4 linked regions of the Homo sapiens genome follow. The protein of the gene in region 4 purifies or fractionates together with the protein of the main gene of each other region. This does not show direct contact. Each region holds a gene or a part of one and is shown on either strand. Other genes may lie near its edges. The genes, in order: EHD4, EIF4H, KYAT1 and DGKQ.

What was found.
Region 1: the proteins of DGKQ (region 4) and EHD4 fractionate together in Homo sapiens (co-fractionation; one large-scale study listed by BioGRID). This does not show direct contact.
Region 2: the proteins of DGKQ (region 4) and EIF4H fractionate together in Homo sapiens (co-fractionation; one large-scale study listed by BioGRID). This does not show direct contact.
Region 3: the proteins of DGKQ (region 4) and KYAT1 fractionate together in Homo sapiens (co-fractionation; one large-scale study listed by BioGRID). This does not show direct contact.

Annotation. Positions count from the first base shown.
Region 1 is NC_000015.10:41,901,724-41,907,624, reverse strand, and holds part of EHD4 (EH domain-containing protein 4), read left to right. Parts: intron 1-5,901. UniProt on the Homo sapiens protein: ATP- and membrane-binding protein that probably controls membrane reorganization/tubulation upon ATP hydrolysis. Plays a role in early endosomal transport.
Region 2 is NC_000007.14:74,179,739-74,185,639, reverse strand, and holds part of EIF4H (eukaryotic translation initiation factor 4H), read right to left. Parts: intron 1-5,901. UniProt on the Homo sapiens protein: Stimulates the RNA helicase activity of EIF4A in the translation initiation complex. Binds weakly mRNA.
Region 3 is NC_000009.12:128,874,498-128,878,988, forward strand, and holds part of KYAT1 (kynurenine--oxoglutarate transaminase 1), read right to left. Parts: intron 1-4,491. UniProt on the Homo sapiens protein: Catalyzes the irreversible transamination of the L-tryptophan metabolite L-kynurenine to form kynurenic acid (KA), an intermediate in the tryptophan catabolic pathway which is also a broad spectrum antagonist of the three ionotropic excitatory amino acid receptors among others.
Region 4 is NC_000004.12:962,684-967,069, reverse strand, and holds part of DGKQ (diacylglycerol kinase theta), read left to right. Parts: intron 1-15; coding exon 16-106; intron 107-267; coding exon 268-322; intron 323-542; coding exon 543-604; intron 605-768; coding exon of another isoform or gene 769-991; coding exon 992-1,142; intron 1,143-1,540; coding exon 1,541-1,579; intron 1,580-1,778; coding exon 1,779-1,894; intron 1,895-2,976; coding exon of another isoform or gene 2,977-2,994; exon of another isoform or gene 2,995-3,618; intron 3,619-3,779; coding exon 3,780-3,931; intron 3,932-4,149; coding exon 4,150-4,298; intron 4,299-4,386. UniProt on the Homo sapiens protein: Diacylglycerol kinase that converts diacylglycerol/DAG into phosphatidic acid/phosphatidate/PA and regulates the respective levels of these two bioactive lipids.

The sequences.
Region 1 (5,901 bases), on a different chromosome or scaffold from region 4:
TTACTTGAGCCCTGGAGGTGAAGGTTGCAGTGAGCCAAGATCGCACCACTGCACTCCAGCCAGGACAACAGTGTAAGACCCCGTCTCAAAAAAATATATACACGCACACACAACAGAGAAATGTCTCTTTTCTTCCAGCAGTGAAATGGGTATTCCTGTGCTCACAAGCTGAATTGGGTTTTTCTGGTCACCAGGTGGTATTGGAGGGCTGTTGTGGCCTCCAGGAGCAGTCTCCCTGGGCAACTTCCCCATTCACACCCCTGGTTATGCCCTGTATCCCATGACCAAGGAGTAAGACAGCTGTTTCCTTGTACCCTTCAGATATTTCAGAAGGGAACTTGGTTTCTTGACCTAAATGAAAGTTATAAAGAAATACAGAGCCTGAGCTGTGGCCCAGTTGGGGCCTCTGTGCCTCGCTGGCTTCCTGAAGTTGCTACAGTGCCTTGCCACAGGGAGACGCTGCTCTTGAGCCCTGGGGCTCCACAGAGGCCTCCCTTGCCAGGCCTCTCCTGCTGGTCCCCTGTGAGCCCGATAATGTAGGGAGCAGGCTCTGGGACCAGAGCTACTCATGACAAAGCTAGCCTGGGCTGGCCAGGTCAGAAGACACCCAGGGTCCTCTGAGCTGGGGGAAGGCAACAAGGAAAGCATGATCTCAGGAGCAGCCATGGCCCACTGAGATGGAGGGTACAAGGAGGGCCAAGCCTTTGCTGAGAATCACCTGGACTCAGGTCTATGCCCAGTACCTTAGCACCACGGAAGGTGGGTGAGCAAGCAAGTGCAGGATCCAGCCAGCCACTCCAAGTGCTGACATAGGAGCAGGCTCTGTGCATGGTCTGCAGCCAGACCAGGTGTGTCACCCCAAGGGGAACGTGGCAGTGCCCAGGCAGGGATGCCCGCAACCCCAAAGCCCCAGAGGGGGTGCTACAGTGTGCTAATTAGCTCTTTTAGTTGTGCATCATGTTAGCAGCTCAGTCACCCTCTTGCCCCACTCTGGCCCATGGCTCCGGTCCAGCTCGACCCCACCACTGCTTCTGTTGAGTGGCACGGCTACCCTGCAATGGTGAGGGCAGAGGGCCAGTGTTACAGCCTTTCTGGGTACCTGCGTTTGGTGGGTCCCAAGCTTTTGTCCTGCATCCAAGAAGAATAAGGTCATGCTGACAATTGAAGAGTGATGAGGGTGGAGGATTTTACTGAGCAACAAAACAACTCTCAGTGAAGAGGGGATGGGAAGATTGGGTTGTCTCTCCTGAAGTCAGGTCATCTCCCCAGTGTGGCTGAGTCTGGGGTTTTTATAGGCACAGGATAGAGGAGTGCATGCTGATTGATTTGTGAGTATGCAAAAAAGGTTAAAACAAAGGCACCAGTCAAAGGTGGACATAACAGTGTAAAAACAATTAGGGAAGGGTAGGTATATGTAAAATAGGTGAAGGGTGAGGATCAATCAAAGAAAAGCAGCCAAATGGAAAGACAGGTTCTCAATCCAGTCCATGGATTTGACTTGTAGCTTGGCCTGCAGGCTTTAAACTGCCTTTGGCTTGAAGATAGGGTTTCACTGGAGACCCACCCCTATCTGCCTCAGCATTTTTCTGCCTCCTGCTGCTATCACTGTTCTAGGCCCCTGGAATAAATCAACACAAAAAAATGAACAAATGAGGCTGGACATAGTGGCTTACGCCTGTAATCCCAGCACTTTGGGAGTCTGAAATGGGAGGACTGCTTGAGTCCAGGGGTTGGAGAACAACCTGGGCAACATAGTGGGACCCGATATCCATTAAAATATTTTAAAATTAGCCAGGTGTGGTTGGCTCATGCCTGTGTTCCCAGCCAGTTGAGAGGGTGAGGTGGGAGGATGGCTTAAGCCCGGAGGTCGAGGCTGCTATGAGCCATGATCACGCCACTGCACTCCAGCCTGGGCGACAGAGGAGACCCTGTCAAAAAACAGAAAAAATGAACAAATGGGGGTAAAAATAATTGACAGCAACCCCACTGTAAGGACACATGTTTCTTGTTACAATATGAGCACTGTTGTGCTTCCATGTAATTGAATTATCTGATGTCTGATATTTAGTATCTCTCTCCCACGTAAGTCTGTGGCTCCATGAGGTCAGTGACCCATGCCCTGTTCACTGCCATATCCCCAGCATCTAGGACGTGGTGAGTGCTCAATTCACACAAGCCAAGTGAATTAGTAAGTTAGTGTAAGGCCATATCACAGCAGGCTCTCAGGCCCTGACGCAGCCTCGATTCCCACAGGGCTTATAGACCAGGGGTTCCCCGTGCCAACCCCTAGAAGCTGCAGGAAGAGGCCTCCTTGGGAAGTAGGCTGAGGCCCAGTCACATCACCCCATTCCTTCGGAGAATCCCCAAGGAACAAGGCAGCCTGGAGCCTGTCAGGAATGCTTAGTGTCACCTGATACTGCAAGCTAGCTTGCTGTCACCGGAAGCTTTGAGGGGCGCGTGTGTGGGTTAGGGCCTGTCCCATCCCTGAGGCTGTTAAAGTCTAACATCCTCTGTAACATAGGCCTTGACAGAGGGGGGACATACGCTTAGAAGTGACCACACTGTGATCTTTGCACATATCAGGGTCACGCAGAGAGCTCGCTGATGCCAGCTTTAGGTTGTTATTCTCCCTGTTCTCTCATGGAGCCAGCTGGTCAGAGTGACTCTTAGCTGTAGCAGTGAGAGGAGAGTGTATTCTGAAGGCCCTTCCCTGAGCTGGGACAGGCCCTGCAACCCACCTGTGTGGCTGCCTGTGCGTGCCTGGCACGCTCTGGGGAGGGACCGTGACTGACAGCACAGTGTTAATACTGCAGGACAAGATGAGCACCCGAAGGGCCACCGTTACTGCTGACTCTGCTCCTCTGACTGGAAGGAGAATTTGGACCCCTCAGCTCATGAGTTGGCAGCATTTCAACAGCAGAGGGCAGCAGAGTCAGCCCCATCTGCTCAGACCCTCTGGTGGATTTGAAAACTCTTCTGGTTAATGTTGGCAATTAATGGGCAAGGGACAGCCCCACCAGAGACGGGGCTGGGAACTGACCTTTGCCTCTTGAGAGGGAGCAATTCCAGGGTCCTGGCTTAGTGGATACAACTGTTGATGGGCAAATACCTTTAAGTTCCCCAGTGTGTATTCATCCCAATAAGAACTGTTTTGGACTCACCGTGGCAGAGGGCAGGGATGATGATGGTTTGGTGCTGATGTCAGGAGTGACATGATGATGGTTTAACTGGTGCCCCCGCAGTCCCCGGTCAAGCCTGGGGGGGACCACAGGGATGAGAATGGAGGGTTTATTTCTTGCCTGCCTCCCAGGACAGGAATAACTGCTGCCTCCTGTCCACCCCTGCAAATATGCGGCCACTCCCCCTGCCAGTTTTCCAGAGCTCTGCAGTCGGAATCCACGGCCCCTGCAGGCTGGTGGGAAGTTTGGGCAGGCATCACCCTCCTTTGTCTGCTGGGCCAGACACAGGGGCTCTGTGTGCGCTCTGAGCGCAGGCTCATTCTTAAGGAAATGGGGTAGGTGTTCACGCACCCGGGGAATCCAAACTCGTTGACCCAGCAGCACTGGGATTTTTGTGGGGGACGCCTGCTCCTCCACCTGCTTAGCGTTCTCTTTTCCATCTCCTTGGCCCATTGAGATGTTGGTGGCAGGAGCCCGAAGTGCAGGCCGCATTGTTTGGTGCTGATGTCAGGAGTGACATGCTAGTGACTGCGTTTGAGAGACCCGGCCTGCAGTACCCGCTGCTCTGAGCTGAGCAGGGGCCACACGCTGGGTTTGCATGGTTTGATGGCTGCTGACTTTACTTCCTGAGAATATGTCAGAGTCCCTTCCCTAGAGAAATGTCAGCCCGTTTAGCTGATATTTCTCAGCTCTGTCCCCCCACCAACTACCACCCAGGAATCCCCTTCCAAATGTCAGCCCAGAATTCCTGCCCTGCCACCCTAGAGACCATGATTTTGATTCTCTATTGGAAACAACCTGTGTGTCCAGCTATAGGGGACAGGGTTAATTAAGAATGGCCCAGCTCTACAGTCTAAGTTCAATATTCTGTAACTGTTAAGAGAAAGGTTATGTAAAAATTAATACCACAGAAATATATGACATATTATTTGTTAAGAGTGTGGTATTGTTTCAGTGTGTGTGTGTGTGTGTGTGTGTGTGTGTGTGTGTGTATGTATGTTAATGGCTAGAAATGCATGCCCAGATATGCTAGCAGAGGTTTTTGCCAGATGATGAGATTATAAATTATTTTAAATTTTTAGTTTTGCTTACCAGTTTTTTCTGTTTTTTTTTTTTACAAGAAAGCATGATATTTATGATAACACCAAGTTTTTTTTTTTTTTTCCTAGCAGCCTGTCACATTGCTTCTGTCCAAAACAGCGAGGTCTGACTTTTCCTTGCAAATCTCCCTGCCTCATCTCCAGAAAATTGCACACCTGCATGGCCTCTCTTTGGCCCCCTCTAGAACTGTACATACAGAAATACTTCACATATAAAACCTGCCATACCTGGAACATTTCTGCATTTATTTAATAAAACTACTGTTGAAGACACTTTTCATCAGATCTTTGAAGCCTGTCATGTAAAGCTCTAGGTAACTCTCGCAGTTCAGAGCCACAGAAAGTTTGTCTCTTGCAATAAACAAGTGTTTTCTCTCCTTAGACAGTGAGGGTCCCCAGGGGTCCCCCTGGGCAACTGAGCTCTTCTCCTTATACAGGCGGTAGTTTTCCTTAACCTTAGCCATCTGATGTGATTATTCCCTTCCTCTCCCTAACATATATATATACATATGTATATATATACATACATATATATACACATACATATATATACACATACATATATATACACACATACATATATGTATACACATACATATGTATATATATATATATGGGTCTAATGACCAGGCTGGTCTTGAACTCCTGGGCTCAAGCAGTCTTCCCACCTTGACCTCCCAAAGTGCTGGGATTACAGGTGTGAGCCACTGAGCCTGGCCCCTCTCTCCCTTTTAATGACTTGGCTTTTTTCTTTCTAATGACTTTATAGATTTCATGTTATCCTTTTCACTGTGTTATGTCAAGTCCTTTTTTAAACAATTGGAGTATCCTTCCTCCATTACAACATAAGCTCATTTAAAGCAGGAATTATGGCTTTTCATATTTATTCTGTATCCCCAAGCCCCAGAACAGGGGCTGGTGCAGAGTAAATGACAAATAAAAGTTGGTCGGGTAGGTGGATGGATGGATGAATTGTTGGCTGAATGGATGGATGGAGGGTTGGTTGAATGGATGGATGGTTAGTTGGAGGATTAGTTGGACAGGTGGGTTGTTGGATGGATGGATGGATGGATGGATGGATGGATGGATGGATGGATGGATGGAGTAACCAAGGAGAACCAAGGTAGGAAGGTCAGTTTCTACGGTGCCATCCACAGAGCCTCTGTGGCATCCTGTAGTCTGCCCCAGCCTGGTTGGGCAGTCACAGTGTTTCCCAGGCCCCCTCTAGAGCCTGTGCTTCTGCTGCTCTGTCTGCTGACAGGCTGCCTCACTCAACAGGTAGAGCTAAGATATGTCCTGACCTGGCCAGTGATACTCAGGCTTACCAGCTACGTTTATTCCCTCGTGCTCCCCAGCCCTACTCCCTGCTCTTACAAGTTCCAGCTTTTGCTTATTTGTCCATATTTTAGAAATGACAGTGGATTCATGATGATTATGTTGTATATGCAAGGTCTCCGTGGCCCTGCCTCGATACCTTCCTGGGGTAGCACAGGTGCCCCTGGTCAGGCCGTACTTGGTGGGGCTGGTCCTACGGGGTTCCTGTTGAGTAGCGCCCTCAGCTCATTCATAAGAGGTTAGAGCCACTAAGAAGCTGTCCTACACTACATTTTTTTACGTGTTCC
Region 2 (5,901 bases), on a different chromosome or scaffold from region 4:
CATTAAAGCATTTTTCTAAAGTAGAAGGGTCAACCAAGCTGTGATGATTCTTTGATGGTTAAAAAAAAAAAAGCTTTTAAGTTTCATAATTCACAATTCCGGTACTTTCCAATAGGAAGTTCCACGTTCTGTTCTAAGACCACCAGAAAATAGGTTTACAAGTGAATTGCATCCTACCTGCCCACTTCTCCCATCTTTTCGGGCCTAGTAAATGTGACTTACTTTGCATTTCAATAACCTTTGCCAATAGTACTCTATCGCTGATATCTCCGAAATCATAAATCCTAAAATATTTTCAGTAAGATACTATTTAGGACGGGATAATAAATATATGAGTTACAGTATAAAGCCGGGCCCAGTGGCTCATGCCTGTAATCCCAACAGTTTGGGAGGCTGAGGCGGGAGGATCACTTAAAGCCAGGAGTTCAAGACCAGCCTGGGCAACACAGTAAGACCCCATCTCTATAAAAAATACAAAAAATTAGCCGGGAGTGATGGTCCACACTTGTAGTCCCAAGCTACCTGGGAGGCTGAGGTGGGAGGATCACCTGAGCCCAGGAGGTTGTTGCTGCAGTGAACTGTGATGGCACCACTGCACTCCAGCCTGGGTGACAGAAGGAGACTGTCTCCAACTGAAGAAACAACAACAACAACAAAAAGGCGGGGCACAGTGGCTCATACCTGTAATCCCAGCACTTCGGGAGGTCAAGGTGGGTGGATCACTTGAGGCCAGAAGTTCAAGACCAGCCTGGCCAACATGGTAAAACTCCGTCTCTACTAAAAATACAAAAACTAGCCAGGTGTGGTAGCACACACTTGTAATCCCAGCTACTTCAGAGGCTGAGGTGGAGCTTGCAGTGAGCTGAGACTGTGTCACTGCGCTTCAGCCTGGGCTACAGAGCGAGACTCCATCTCAAAAAAACAAAAACAAAAAAACACAAAAAACAAACAAAAAAGCACAAAAAACAACAACAAAACCAAACAAACAAAAAACAAGATACAGTATAAACATGTGGAAAACCATAAAAATGGAGGGTCAATGTTAAAAACAGTTTAAATTCATTACTCAACATTAAACATCTAGTGATGCGTAATGATGTTAAAAGACTGTCTTGTATGTAAGCAGCTCACAGTTGTGTGGGACGTATAAAACACATGTATATATGCAGGTATGTTTGTGTGTATGAATGTGTAACATATACATAAAAACTAAAAAGGAGGGTGAGGATGAAGAGAGATGATAAACTCTCGGGTGTTTGATGTAGTTGCTAAGTAAGGAAAATGGAGGTGCGAAGGCTTGCTAATTGTGCTCGAACTTACAGAGTAGAGGAACTGTGGAACTGAGATCAGGCCAGACTTGACCCCTGATTGAGCACAGGAAGCCCAGGTGAATGCCAGTAAGATGACGGGGCACTGCTAAAAATGCACTAGGACAGGAAGGTGGCTCTGGCTTTGGAGAAGATAGAAAAATCTAGTTTGGGGCAAACCATTTTTGAAAAGTTGGCACGTTACCAAATGGCAGCACCTAACAGCTAACTGGTGATATAATTCTGGAGCAAAGATACACCAAAGCCCACCAAACTGTTCAACTCACTCGTGCCTCACAAAACCACCAGTGGCTTAATACTCTAGACTTTTCAATAATTACCAAAGTAGTCCTAAATATTCCCATACCCTACCTGATGTAGTCCCTTCTACAGGTCTTAAGCACTTTTTACCTTTTCATCCCATTCAATGAAATCACTAGGGGGCAGCAGGGCTGGGCCATGGAGGTAGACCTCATTCAAGCTAGCACTGGTAAAGTGTCCACTGTGTGACAGTCACTTGAGACACATCACATAGGATGTGAGTACCCCAGAGTACACATCACATAGGATGACATCACATCACATCACATAGGATGACACAGATCTGTTACCCACCGATTCATTTACAAAATCAAATGTCAGAAAACTCTGAGCTAAAATGTCTGCCACCTTTCACTAGATTCAAGTTTGGGGGACTACTACCTAAATAAATAAGCTGTGTTTCGTGAAATTCAGTACATTCCTACACAGATCAATAACAACACATGGGAGAACAGGTTCACTTGACACCTTAGCTAGCTTGATGTAGGACCTCTGCCAAATTACCTCTGTACCTATGTTTTCTTGTCTGTTATATTTCAATCTTGATTTTATAAGTTTAAAACTGACCATAAAAACATTTCCTAAGTACCAAGTGCTATATAATTCTGCCATGCTCCTGGGTAGACCCAACAGGCCTGAGGCTACACTGGGCTGGCAGGAGTGCGTGTAGAACAGGAACAGATCAGCAGAGCGTGCCAATTCAGGACACCTGAAGTCAAGGTCTGTGCTGCAAACTCCCTGCCACTACTGAGCAGTGTCCTTTCTACTGCCCATTAGGGACAGTCTATTGATTATGAAAGATTAAAGTAGTCAATTACAGCCTCAGTAATTTAGGAAACCCTACTTTCGGCTCCAAGTGTGACTAAAATCCTTGACAGGCAAATCACTTTTCCTTACTCAAATCAACCACGTATCTGCATGTCTATGAAGGGTGGAGAGAATGTAGAGAAGGCACAAACCTAAGACTCGGTTTCTGCCCTCAAGGAGCTGATAATTTGGAAAGGAGAAATCACGTCACAAGCAAAGGACTGCAGAAAATCTGGAAGATAGCAATGAGAACAGTTTCACCAGGGTGGAGCAGTTGGGAGCCAGGATATGCAGCACAGCAGAGAGCAACAGAAGTGGGACTCCACTTCCAGATGGCAGATGGGGCCAATACTGAACCCTTAGGGTGAGCCAGAAAAGATCTGTAGGTGTCAAAGGAGACTGAGAGAGGGTAACTATAAAAAGAAGCCAATGTACAGAGTAGATGTTATGAGGGTAGGGATGTATCCAGTAAGTAGATGCAACAGAAAGTTGAGTGCTCAAGGCTGGGCATGGGCATGTGGCTCCGGCCTGTAGTCCCAGCACTTTGGGACTGTGATTGTGCAACTGCACTCCAGCCTGGGCAACAGGGCAAGACTATGCCTCCAAATTATGAGACACATCTCATTTAAACCTCCCAACAGAGGAGTTTCTAGCTCTCATTTGGGGAAAGTAGGGCCCAGAAGGGTAAAGTAGTGTAAACCAAAGAAAATGACTGGCCGGACGCCATGGCTCACACCTGCAATCCCGGCACTTCGGGAGGCCAAGGTGGGGAGATCACTTGAGCTCAGGAGTTTGAGACCAGCGTGGGGAACACGGCAAAACCCCATATCTACAAACAGGTAACATTTGGGTTTTTGACAATCATCAAAAATGGTTAAGCTTTCAAAGGTCAAGCCTTTGATAAATACCATTTATACTACCTATTATAAACCATAGTAGTATAGAGAAGAGTGGTCACTTAAAGAGTAGGTAATGGGTATACAGGTCACTATATTATGCTTTGGTTCGTGTTCTAAATTTTCTACATTTTTCTGTAATGTTTTGCATATTCAAACAATCCAACTATACAAAGTCATCTTTGCAAAAACTGGGAAAAACTGAACACTGGGTACTGGAAAAACTGTTGGTTAAAGAAAAAAAAGAAGCCCTTATCTGTTAGAAACATACTCAAGTATGAAAAGTATGTAAGAGGCCGGGTGTGGTGGCTCACACCTATAATCCCAGCACTTTGGGAGGCTGAAGCGGATGAATCACAAGGTCAGGAGTTCAAGACCAACCCGGCCAACATGGTGAAACCCCATCTCTACTAACAGTACAAAAATCAGCTGGGCACAGTGGCAGGTGCCTGTAATCCCAGCTACTCGGGAGGCTGAGGGGTGGTGGCGGAGGCTGCAGTGAGCTGAGATCGCGCCACTGAGCTCTAGCCTGGGAGGCAGAGTGAGACTCCATCTCAAAAAAAAAGGCCGGGCTCGGTGGCTCACACCTGTAATCCCAGCACTTTGGGAGGCCGAGGCAGGCAGATTACCTGAGGTCGGGAGTTCGAGACCAGCCTGACCAACATGTAGAAACCCTCTGTTTCTGCTCTATCTCTGCTAAAAATACAAAATTTGCCAGGTGTGGTGGCACATGCCTGTAATCCCAGCTACTCGGGAGGCTGAGGCAGGAGAATCGCTTGAACCCAGGAGGCGGAGGTTGTGGTGAGCCGAGATAGTGCCACTGCATTCCAGCCTGGGCAACAAGAGTAAAACTCTGCCTCAGAAAACAAAACAAAACAAAAAACAAAAAAAACAAAGAAAGAATATATAAGATACATCTACTACGGTAGCCATAAAAATTGAAACAAAAATTGCTCTAAAGTATGTAATATTTACCAACACAAAGATGAGGATTAAAATTTAAAAAAATAAGAACTATTTTAGAAGGATAGGTGACTAGGATTAGCCTTAAATTATCCTAGCCCACACCTCCACCCAAAAGTAGGGAAGATAGATGTAACAGAAATAGCCAAAATGTTTATGAGGTTAAAACTGGGAAAGGAATGGAGTTGTTTAGTGGGTATAGAGTTTCTGTTTGGATTATGAAAAGGTTCTGGAACTAGATAGTGGCAATGGTTACACAACACTATGAAGGTACTCCATGCCACTAAATTGTACACTTAAAAATGGTTGAGGCTGGGCGTGGTGGCTCATGCTTGCAATCCCAGCACTTTAGGAGGTCAAGGCAGGAGTATCCCTTGAGGCTAGTTCAAGACCAGCTTAGGCAACAAAGGGAGACCCTGTCTCTATTAAAAAAACAATTATTTAGCTCAAGCAGCAGTTCTTTACATTTGTGCAGTCTCTGAAGAAGGCCAAGATGTAATCCTTTGGTCCTATTCTGGCCTGGAGGGCCACACCTTTCTTCCACTCAGCAGTCCCAGAGACTTAAGAGCTGCTGTATCACTGCTGCTGAGGCTTCTTTCGAAGGTCCTCACTGAAGCTGCTCAGCCCTTCCTCCTAAGATGAAGTTTCAGAGCCTGGCCATCCCCACTATCACCTTCTTCTTCATAGGCTCCAGTGTGCTGATGCCTTAAAATATGGTTCCCAGAATGGTTCACAATATTCCACATTTATAAAGCAAAGACCTATACTGATCTCACAACAGGTCTTTGTGTTAATACAAACGAAGGCAGGGGCATCAAACTACATTACTCATGCTTTCCCACCATGCACTTGAAGTATTTAAAATAGGAAGAAAAATCACAGCTTCAATTAGGAATATCCTTGGTAAAGCAGTAAAAATGAATCGTGACCCACTTTTTAGTACCCTATGTTATGAAACACGCAAAGCACTTCTGCTGCATACACAAGCATGATGGCTGCTGCAGGAAAAGCACTTGAGCTACAAGCTGAACTAGCTGTTCTTTCTATAGAACAAACTATGGTTAATTCAGACATGGGTACTAAGTTTTTTAAAAATGAAGTTAAGTCTGTTCCTTGAAGTAAAAGAACAGTATTTGGGTTTTTTGTTTTGAGACAGGGTCTTGCTCTGTTGCCCAGATTTGAGTGCTGTGGTGCAATCACTGCTCACTGCAGCCTCAATCTCCAGGACTCAAGTGATCCTCTAGCCTCAGCCTCCCAAGTAGGTGGGACTATAGGCATATACCACCACACCAGCTAATTTTATTTTTGAAAAGACCAGGTCTGGACATATTGTCCAGACTGGGCTAGAGTGATCCTCCTGCCATGGCCTCCCAAAGTGTTGGGATTACAGACATGAGCCACAGCACCTGGCCAAAATAACAGTATTTGTTGCCAATGGTAAAATTTAAGCTTTCAAGCAAAAAAGAGTTTCGGAAAACCTGTATCCATCAACATAAGCCTGACAGTCTTTCAATACTCAGAGACTTTTCTAACAGCTATGGTGAATGTGACTTTGATACTGTATAACAAAATGTACCAACATCTGGAACATCTGCATGGCTCTGCCT
Region 3 (4,491 bases), on a different chromosome or scaffold from region 4:
TGGGGGTTTTACTATGTTGCTTAGGCTGATGTTGAACTCCTGGCATCAAGCAATCATCCTGCCTTAGCCTCCCAAAGTGCTGGGATTACAGGTGTAAGCCACTGCACCTGACATCTTCTATGTCTTGATGAATACGAGTCATCCTTAGTCATCCTTTGTTTTCAATGTTGTGAAATATCTCTGGGAGTTCCTGTTCTGTACATTTTGTGGTGAGATAATCCTGCCTTTTTTTTTTTTTTTTTTTTGAGACGGAGTCTCGCTCTGTCACTCAGGCTGGAGTGCAGTGGCGTGATCTCGGCTCACTCCAATCTCTGCCTCCCAGGTTCAAACGATTCTCCTGCCTCAGCCTCCTGAGTAGCTGGGATTACAGGCACGCACCACCATGCCCGACTTATTTTTGTATTTTTAGTAGGGATGGGGTTTCACCATGTTGGCCAGGCTGGTCTCGAACTCCTGACCTCAAGTGATCTGCCCACCTCGGCCTCCCAAAGTGCTGGGATTACAGGCGTGAGCCACTGCGCTCAGCCCAGGGAGTTCCTTTAATGTGAAGTTTTGCTGGTATTATTTCCTCTGGGTCATTATCTTTTTCTTTAGAACCACTTTCCTCATTTATGTTGATAAGTTTGCCTTCAAGAAGTTTCTCTGGATGCAGATCTCAGGTTTCCCAAACTGTGAACAGCTGCAGAGTTGCCATCCCCACAGCTAGCTATTTCTTCCATTATTCCATTTATGTTCAATTTGTTTTTTTTTGTTTTTTTTTTTTTTTTGGTTTTTGTTTTTGAGATGGAGTCCTGCTGTGTCGCCCAGGCCGGAGTGCAGCTGTGTGACCTTGGCTCACTGGCGTGGTGGCTCACGCCTGTAATCCCAGCACTTTGGGAGGCCGAGGCAGACAGATCACTTGAGGTCAGGAGTTCGAGACCAGCCTGGCCAACATGGTGAAACCGCGTCTCTACAAAAATACAAAAATTAGCCGGGTGTGGTGGTGGGCACCTGTAGTCCCAGCTACTCGGGAGGCTGAGGCAGGAGAATCACTTGAACCTGAGAGGCAGAGGTTGAAGTGAGCCAAGATTGAGCCACTGCACTCCAGCCTGACAGCTGTCCAGGTGACAGAGCAAGACTCCGCTTCAAAAAAAAAAAAAAATGTGTGGGATAACTGCTGCAATGGAGGCAGCTCAGGTGATCTGGCAGCACCGAGGAGGCCCAGCACCACTAGGCATGGGGACCATAGCTGTGCCGAGGACCCTTCTGGGGTAGCTCTCAGGCATCTAAGATCTGAGGCCTCCCTGCTGCCAGGCCAGGGGCCGAGGGCCAGTGGCCTGTGCCCCCCTCCAACACACACCTCTATCAGCCTGGGCAGCTACTGGCCATTTGCTTGACCCGAAGGCAGTGGATGACCCCTGGGCCCGTGGAATGCATCACTGATGCATTCCAGGGGCTGATGTCAATAACCCAGGGGCTGATGTCAGCTATGCCACTGTCCCCCAACCCCCATTGGACCAGCTCTGCCCAGAAGCCTGTGGTGACACTGGACAAAGTCCAAAGCCTCCTCAGCCTGGCGTTTGGAGCCGGCTGGAATCCAGGCTTGGCAGCCTCCACCTTCCCTCCCTTTACTCTTTTTTTATTTTAGAGATAGGGTCTCGCTTTGTCACCTAGGAGCCTTGAACTCCTGAGCTCAAGTGATCCTCCTGCCTCAGCCGCCTGAGTATCTGGGACTATAAGTGCATGCCCCAACCCCCAGCTCAAATTCTTTGCTTTTAAAAAAAAAAAAAAATAGAGACAGGGTCTCCCTATGTTACCCAGGCTGGTCTTGAACTCCTGGGCTCAAGTGATCCTCTGGTCTTGGCCTCCTAAAGTCCTGGGATTACAGCTTGGATTATAGGCATGAGACACCACACCCAGTCATCCTTTGTTCTTTTTTTTTTTTTTTTTTCTGTTTTTGAGACAGAGTCTGGCTCTGTCGCCCAGGCTGGAGTGCAGTGGCGTGATCTCAGCTAACTGGAAGCTCCACCTCCCGGGTTCACGCCACTCTCCTGCCTCAGCCTCCCGAGTAGCTGGGACTACAGGCGCCCGCCACCACGCCCTGCTAATTTTTTTTGTATTTTTAGTAGAGACAGGGTTTCACCATGTTAGCCAGGATGGTCTCAATCTCCTGACCTCGTGATCCGCCTGCCTCGGCCTCCCAAAGTGCTGAGATTACAGGCATGAGCCACGGCACCCGGCCTTTTTTTTTTTTTTTTCTTGAGATAGAGCCTCTCTCTTCACTCTGTCACCCAGGCTGGAGTGCAGTGGCACAATCTTGGCTCACTGCAACCCCCACCTGCCGGGTTCAAGTGATTCTCCTGCCTCAGCCTCCCAAGTAGCCGGGATTACAGGTGCACGCCACCACGCCCAGCTAATTTATTTTTATTTTTATTTTTTTGAGATGGAGTCTCACTCTTTCACCCAGGCTGGAGTGTAATGGCACGATCTCGGCTCACTGCAACCTCTGCCTCCCGGGTTCAAGTGATTCTCCCACCTCAGCCTCCCGAGTAGCTGGGATTACAGGCACCCACCATCATGCTCGGCTAATTTTTGTATTTTTGTAGAGATGGGGTTTCACCATGTTGGCCAGGCTGGTCTTGAACTTCTGGCCTCTGGTGATCTGCCTGCCTTGACCTCCCAAATTGCTGGAATTACAGGTGTGAACCACTGTGCCCAGCCACCCTTTGCTTTTGAATAAATGTTGCCCATCTTCACTCAAGCTGTTTCCCCTGCCTGGCATACCCTCCAATCCAAAATCCCTAGCAGGGCCTAGCCCCACCTGTACCTCCTCTCTGAAGCTTCTGTGTCCACCCAGGCCCTTTGCTGAACTCAGAAAGCACCTACCTGTGCCTGACCCTCTCCCCCAACCCCATGCTAAATTCTCTAATCCTCATCACAGCTGATTAGGATGGTATTATTTACTCTATTTTGCTCAAAAGGAGAACAAGGAAAACTCACTCAGCCTAGAGAGCTCCAGCTGTGATTCAAACCCTGGTTTGCCTATTTCCAAAGTCCAAATTCTGTCCCGTGAAATCTCCTCTCAGGCGGGTGCTAGGGCTGACAGGAGACCACCAGCCCCTTGGGGACAGGAGCCATGTCTTGTCCAACTTCACCTTGCATGGCTGCTTACAAGGGCAGGCGAGGTGACCATGCCTTCCCAGGGTGGCCCCACGTCACATCACTCAAGTCAATTATGACATTCGGTTTTGGAGCTTCTCAATAGGGGCACACTTAGAATTTGAGATGAGTCAGTTCTTCACTGGGGAGAGCTATCTGGAGCCTTGAAGGATGTTTAGCATCCCTGGGCTTAAAATGCCAGGAGACTCCCAGTTACTGAGACAACACACATCGTGGCACCTCTAGAGAAAGGGTACAGAACTGGGGATACCATGCCCAGGAAGACCAGTCTAGTGCATGAATAACCACAGAAGACCAAACCTTGGACTTGGATCAAATAGTCCCAGCTCCACCATAAACTAGCTATGGGACCTTGGTCATGCCAGGCCGCAGCCTCTTGGGGGCTCAGCTTCCTCATCTGTACAATGAAGGTGACAAGAATCCACAGAGAATATACTGTGGGTCCTGGCTCACAGCCACTTGTCAATGACAACAAGCTATTAACTTTTTTTTTTTTTTGAGACAGTCTTGCTCTATCGCCCAGGCTGGAGTGCAGTGGCACAATCTCGGCTCACTGCAACCTCTGCCTCCCAGTTTCAAGCGATTCTTGTACCTCAGCCTCCAGAGTAGCTGGGACCACAGGCACGTGCCACCACACCCAGCTAATTTTTGTATTTTTGATAGAGATGGGGTTTTACCACGTTGCCCAGGTTGGTCTCGAACTCCTGAGCTCAAGCGATAGTCCCACCTCAGCCTTCCAAATTACTGGGATTATAGGCATGAACCACCACACCCAGTCAACAAGCTATTAACATTTAAACCTACCAGGCTTTCCATAAAATTAGTAACCAAGCAAAATGAAAAATCTCTTATTATATAATGAATCCAAATTTTTTTTGATAGAAAAAAAACAGAATTCCCTGAAGACAAATGTTTGGTGACAATTTGTTGAGCCAATGTTTTCCTGGAGAGAACAGCCTGTCTGAGGAGATCTAACAATTGCGTCACTCAGACACAGTCCCCCTGGGCTTAGGAATTGGCAGAGGAGAGAGAAATGACTTCTGGAGTCCAGACGGCAGGTTTACAGGCTGGAGGGGTTGGTGGAAGACCTGAGTGACACAAACAGTAGGTATCTCACCACTTATTCCTCCTGGCACAGGACCCAGATTCAAAAACCACAATCTCACTCCCATACATTAAAGGAACACACAACAGATAGGCAGATAGCCTCGCGGGAGCCTTGGAGGAGGTGGCATCAGCTTTACAGGTGGGGAAACTGAGGCTTAGAGAGGGGAAATGACTTACTCGAAGTCCCAGAAAAGCACCAGGAGGCCCCCAGCTGCAAGCTGGGGA
Region 4 (4,386 bases):
ACTGTGTCCCCACAGGGTGGGCGTGGCCTACGTGTCCGTGCGAGTGACCCCGAAGAGCACGGCCCGCTCTGTGGTGCTGGAGGTCCTGCCGCTGCTCGGCCGCCAGGTGCGTACCCTGTGCCTGCTCCCCATGCCGGCCAGACTCGGTGGGGGGTCGCTGTCCCCAGGAGGCCAGGCCACCATCCCAGCCCAGGCGTGGCTGTCCCCGCGGGTGTCCTGAGGTGGTGGGGGCCTGCCCAGACCCGATGCCAAGCTCTACCCCAACAGGCCGAGAGTCCCGAGAGCTTCCAGCTGGTGGAGGTGGCGATGGGCTGCAGGCACGGTGAGTAGACAGCCCGTGCTGGGCGTGGCGGTCCCTGCACCTTTTGGGTTTGGACCTGCTGCCCAGGCTTTCCTGCAGGGTGGTGCCGGACATCAAGGCCGGGCTCTGCCCTCCTGACCAGCTCCACCCTGCATCCCCACGGGCCCTGGGGGCTCCGGGCAGCTGCTTCCAAGGTGGGCGAGGAGCCGGGTGCTGACGGCCTGTGCCCTCACCTCTGCAGTCCAGCGGACGATGCTGATGGACGAACAGCCCCTGCTGGACCGGCTACAGGACATCCGGCAGGTGAGTGGGTGTGGACGCCGGCCCCCAGGGAACCAGCAGCCCTCAGCCACAGCCTCTGCCCCACAGGGTGGGTGTGCCCCAGACGCCGAGTTCTCCTTGGCTAGGCAGCGGCTGTCCTGGCTGACAGGGCAGCGCCCTCGTCATGAGCTACTTGGTCCCTGCAGGGAGGCCTCGAGCTGCAGATCTCCCCGAGGTCCTCGAGGGGAACGGACAGGGGTTGTCCACAGCAAGGAAGCCTCTGTGGCCCCTTTCCTCGTTTTCCTGTTGACTTAATTCCTGGGAGTGTTCCTGATGCCCTGTTTTGCTGTTTTGCGGGTGAGGAGACAGAGGGCCTGGTGCGGTGGTGCCGTTCTCCCCGGCCCAGCATCCCCGCCCCTCTCCCTGCAGATGTCTGTGCGGCAGGTGAGCCAGACGCGGTTCTACGTGGCAGAGAGCAGGGATGTAGCCCCGCACGTCTCCCTGTTTGTTGGCGGCCTGCCTCCCGGCCTGTCTCCCGAGGAGTACAGCAGCCTGCTGCATGAGGCCGGGGCTACCAAAGGTGTGACCACTGTGGCTGGCCGTGGGCTGCTGGCACGGGGCAGGGTCGAGCGGCAGGCAGTGGGGCTGCAGTGCTGAGCCGGCTCCTGCCTCTCCTTGAGCCACCAAGGCCTGAGCTCCGGGTCCAGCCCACGTCTCTTCCTCCAAGAGGCTCTGGAGCCTCTCGCCCTCTGTGGCCGTTCCCTGCGGTGCTCAGCCTCTGCCTCTCCCTCTCCCTCTGGGGGGTCCTGTACCTCCAGGGAGCTGGGAGTCCTGCTCCTGGAGTGGGGCAGGGGTACTTCCTGGGGAGGCTGCCTTTGGGGTGAGATGTCACCCCTGGACAGGCGGAGGGGCTGTCCCTGGCCCCAGTGCTGTGTGTCCTTCGCCTCCCACCGCCCTGACCACAGCCTGCCTTTGCAGCCACCGTGGTGTCCGTGAGTCACATCTACTCCTCCCAAGGTGAGCTGCCCTGAGGGACGTGGTCACATGAGGCCCAGGGGTGTTCCTGGGGTGAAGTGGGACAGCCCTGGCCCTCACGTAGCACCTGACCTTTCCCTTGGGCAGCCCTGGGCTGGGGAAACGTCCTGGTTTGGTTCCTGCCCTGGCACCGTGGGGGCCATGGGACAGGCTCCCCCTGAGTCCTGGGCTCCTGCCGCAGGCGCGGTAGTGTTGGACGTTGCCTGCTTTGCGGAGGCCGAGCGGCTGTACATGCTGCTGAAGGACATGGCTGTGCGGGGCCGGCTGCTCACTGCCCTGGTGCTCCCCGACCTGCTGGTGAGTGTGCGGTCAAGCCGGCTCTTCACACACCCCAGGGGGTGGCCAGAGGGAGGTCGGGGTCTGCAGGTGCACAGGCCCCACAGCCAGACTCGCTGTTTTCATCTGGCATCACTTCCTTGAATTCACTGGGGGCTTGTAGGTGCCACCTTGTTTGTGCCTCACAACAGCAGGAAGGACTCTGTTGCCCGTTTTACAGCAAGGGGCCTGAGGTCAGAGGGTCAGCGCTCATCCGAGGCTGCCCAGTAGGTGATACCAGCTCCGTGGGGCACCGTGGGGTCAGGCCCAGCTTCCACGCTGCACCTGAGGCCTCCACCCAGTAGGGAGGCCCACAGGACGCAGCTCCTGGATGTGCCGGGCCCCGCTGCGGCTGCCTCGCCAAGGGCCAGAGCGTGTTTGTGACCAGCTGTCAGGATCCCAGGCATGGCCCTCCCGGTACAGCCTCAGCCTCACTCCCCCTGCCCGGGAGGCCTTAGGGCCTCTGCTCTCTGCCTGGAGCTCCCCAGGCCAGTCAGTGCAGCTCCCAAACTTTGAACGCTGCCCTTCAGACCCACAGTGCCCAGAAGAGGGGGCACCTGGCAACAGGGCAGGGCTGGGGGAAAGGGGGATCTGGAACATGGAGACAGGGCAGGGCCGGGGGGAACGGGGGTCTGGTCCGTGGAGACAGGGCAGGGCCGGGGGGAACGGGGTTCTGGCCCATGGAGGGGCTGGAGCCTGGGACTCCACGCTGCACACCGTGCCTTCACATTGGCCTCTCGTCCTCAGCCCATCTAGCCCCCAAAGGGTCCCATGAGGACCCCCCAGGTGTCCATGGCTGTTCTACCCCTGAACCTTGACCCTTGATCGTGACCCCAGTCCAGGCGAAGCAGAACTCGAGCAGAATGAGTTGTCTGTGGCTGGGACGGGAGATGCCTGTGGCTCCCTGCTATGCCTCCCTCCTGTGCCCCTACACCCGGCCTTGCCTGGCTCAGGACAGGGTGGCCATCCCCACTGTCCCGAGGATGCAGCCCCCACCCCAGCTCCACTCGCTCTGTGGGCAGAGCCAGGTTTGGGGCCGACACGCGCTTTCTCTCTCCCGTCAGCTGCCTGCCCTGGGGTGAGTGGTAAGTGGTGACCGCAGGCGGCTCTGCCTGCCAAGTGGGTCACGAAGCCCCGAGTGTGTCCTTGCCCCCAGCCACGGCCGGCCCCTGTGCCGCTGCCCACCCTGTGTCTGCACCCAGCCTGTGTGTCTCCTGTTGCCCAGCCTTCCCCGCTGTGGGGGCCCCAGCCTCCTGTCGTAGGGTCCCTAGCCTCCTGTCGTAGGGATCCCAGCCCTGAGCCCGCTGTGTCTAGATCCCTGGGTACTGTTTCTTGGGGTTGTGTGTGGGGAGATGGACTCTGTCCTGTGGTCGAGGGACGCCGCGTGCCACCCTGTGAGTTAAGAGCTTTTCTCGGCTGCTGTGTAGGTGGGCGGTGGCCTGGGAGCCGCCATCCTCCAAAGGTGTGCACCAGAGGCCCCCCAGGGGACAGGCCTTGGTCTCGCTGGCACAGAGTGCCACGCAGAGTCCCACGTGGATTTCCAGCCTGGACTCGCGCTGCATGGCCCAGGCGGGTGTGGTCTGTTCACACGCAGCTCAGTGGGCAGGTCTGAGGCCTTTGTGCTGGGAGTGCCAGGCAGCCAGCCGGCTGTCCTCAGTGCCGCCCTGCTGGCCAGCAGCGAGATGGGGTGACCACGCAGCTCATGTGTGAGGCCTCAGATGTGAGGGTGCTGGCCACGCCTTCCTGGGGAGGGGGCTGGTCCAAGCCAGGTGGGCTCAGGGTTGGGGGCTGGGCACTGCCTGGCAACCCCAGCAGTGGGGACACCCCACCTTGGGTCCCCATCCTAACCCAGCCCCCTGTCTGTCAGCACGCGAAGCTGCCCCCAGACAGCTGTCCCCTCCTTGTGTTCGTGAACCCCAAGAGTGGAGGCCTCAAGGGCCGAGACCTGCTCTGCAGCTTCCGGAAGCTACTGAACCCTCATCAGGTCTTCGACCTGACCAACGGAGGTCCTCTTCCCGGGTGAGTCCAGCAGGACCCCTGGTCCAGGGCAGCAGCAGGGGCGGGAAGGGCCCCAGGAGGCTGCCACAGCTGTCTCGGCCGGCAGGAGCTCCACGGGGATCCCGTGCTGGGACCTTGAAGTCCTCCACACGGCCAGGACGGGCACTTGGAAGAGGCAGCCTGGGTGGGGGATGGGCTGCGCCCGCAGCTGGTAGAGGACACTTCCTGTCTCCCGCTAGGCTCCACCTGTTCTCCCAGGTGCCCTGCTTCCGGGTGCTGGTGTGTGGTGGCGATGGCACTGTGGGCTGGGTGCTTGGCGCCCTGGAGGAGACACGGTACCGACTGGCCTGCCCGGAGCCTTCTGTGGCCATCCTGCCCCTGGGCACAGGTGGGCTCAGCCGTGCAGCCGAGGAGGGGGCCTCAGGGTCTACCCCTTCCTGTGCAGCTTTTGCCGAGGCCTGGGCTGGCTGTCCTCG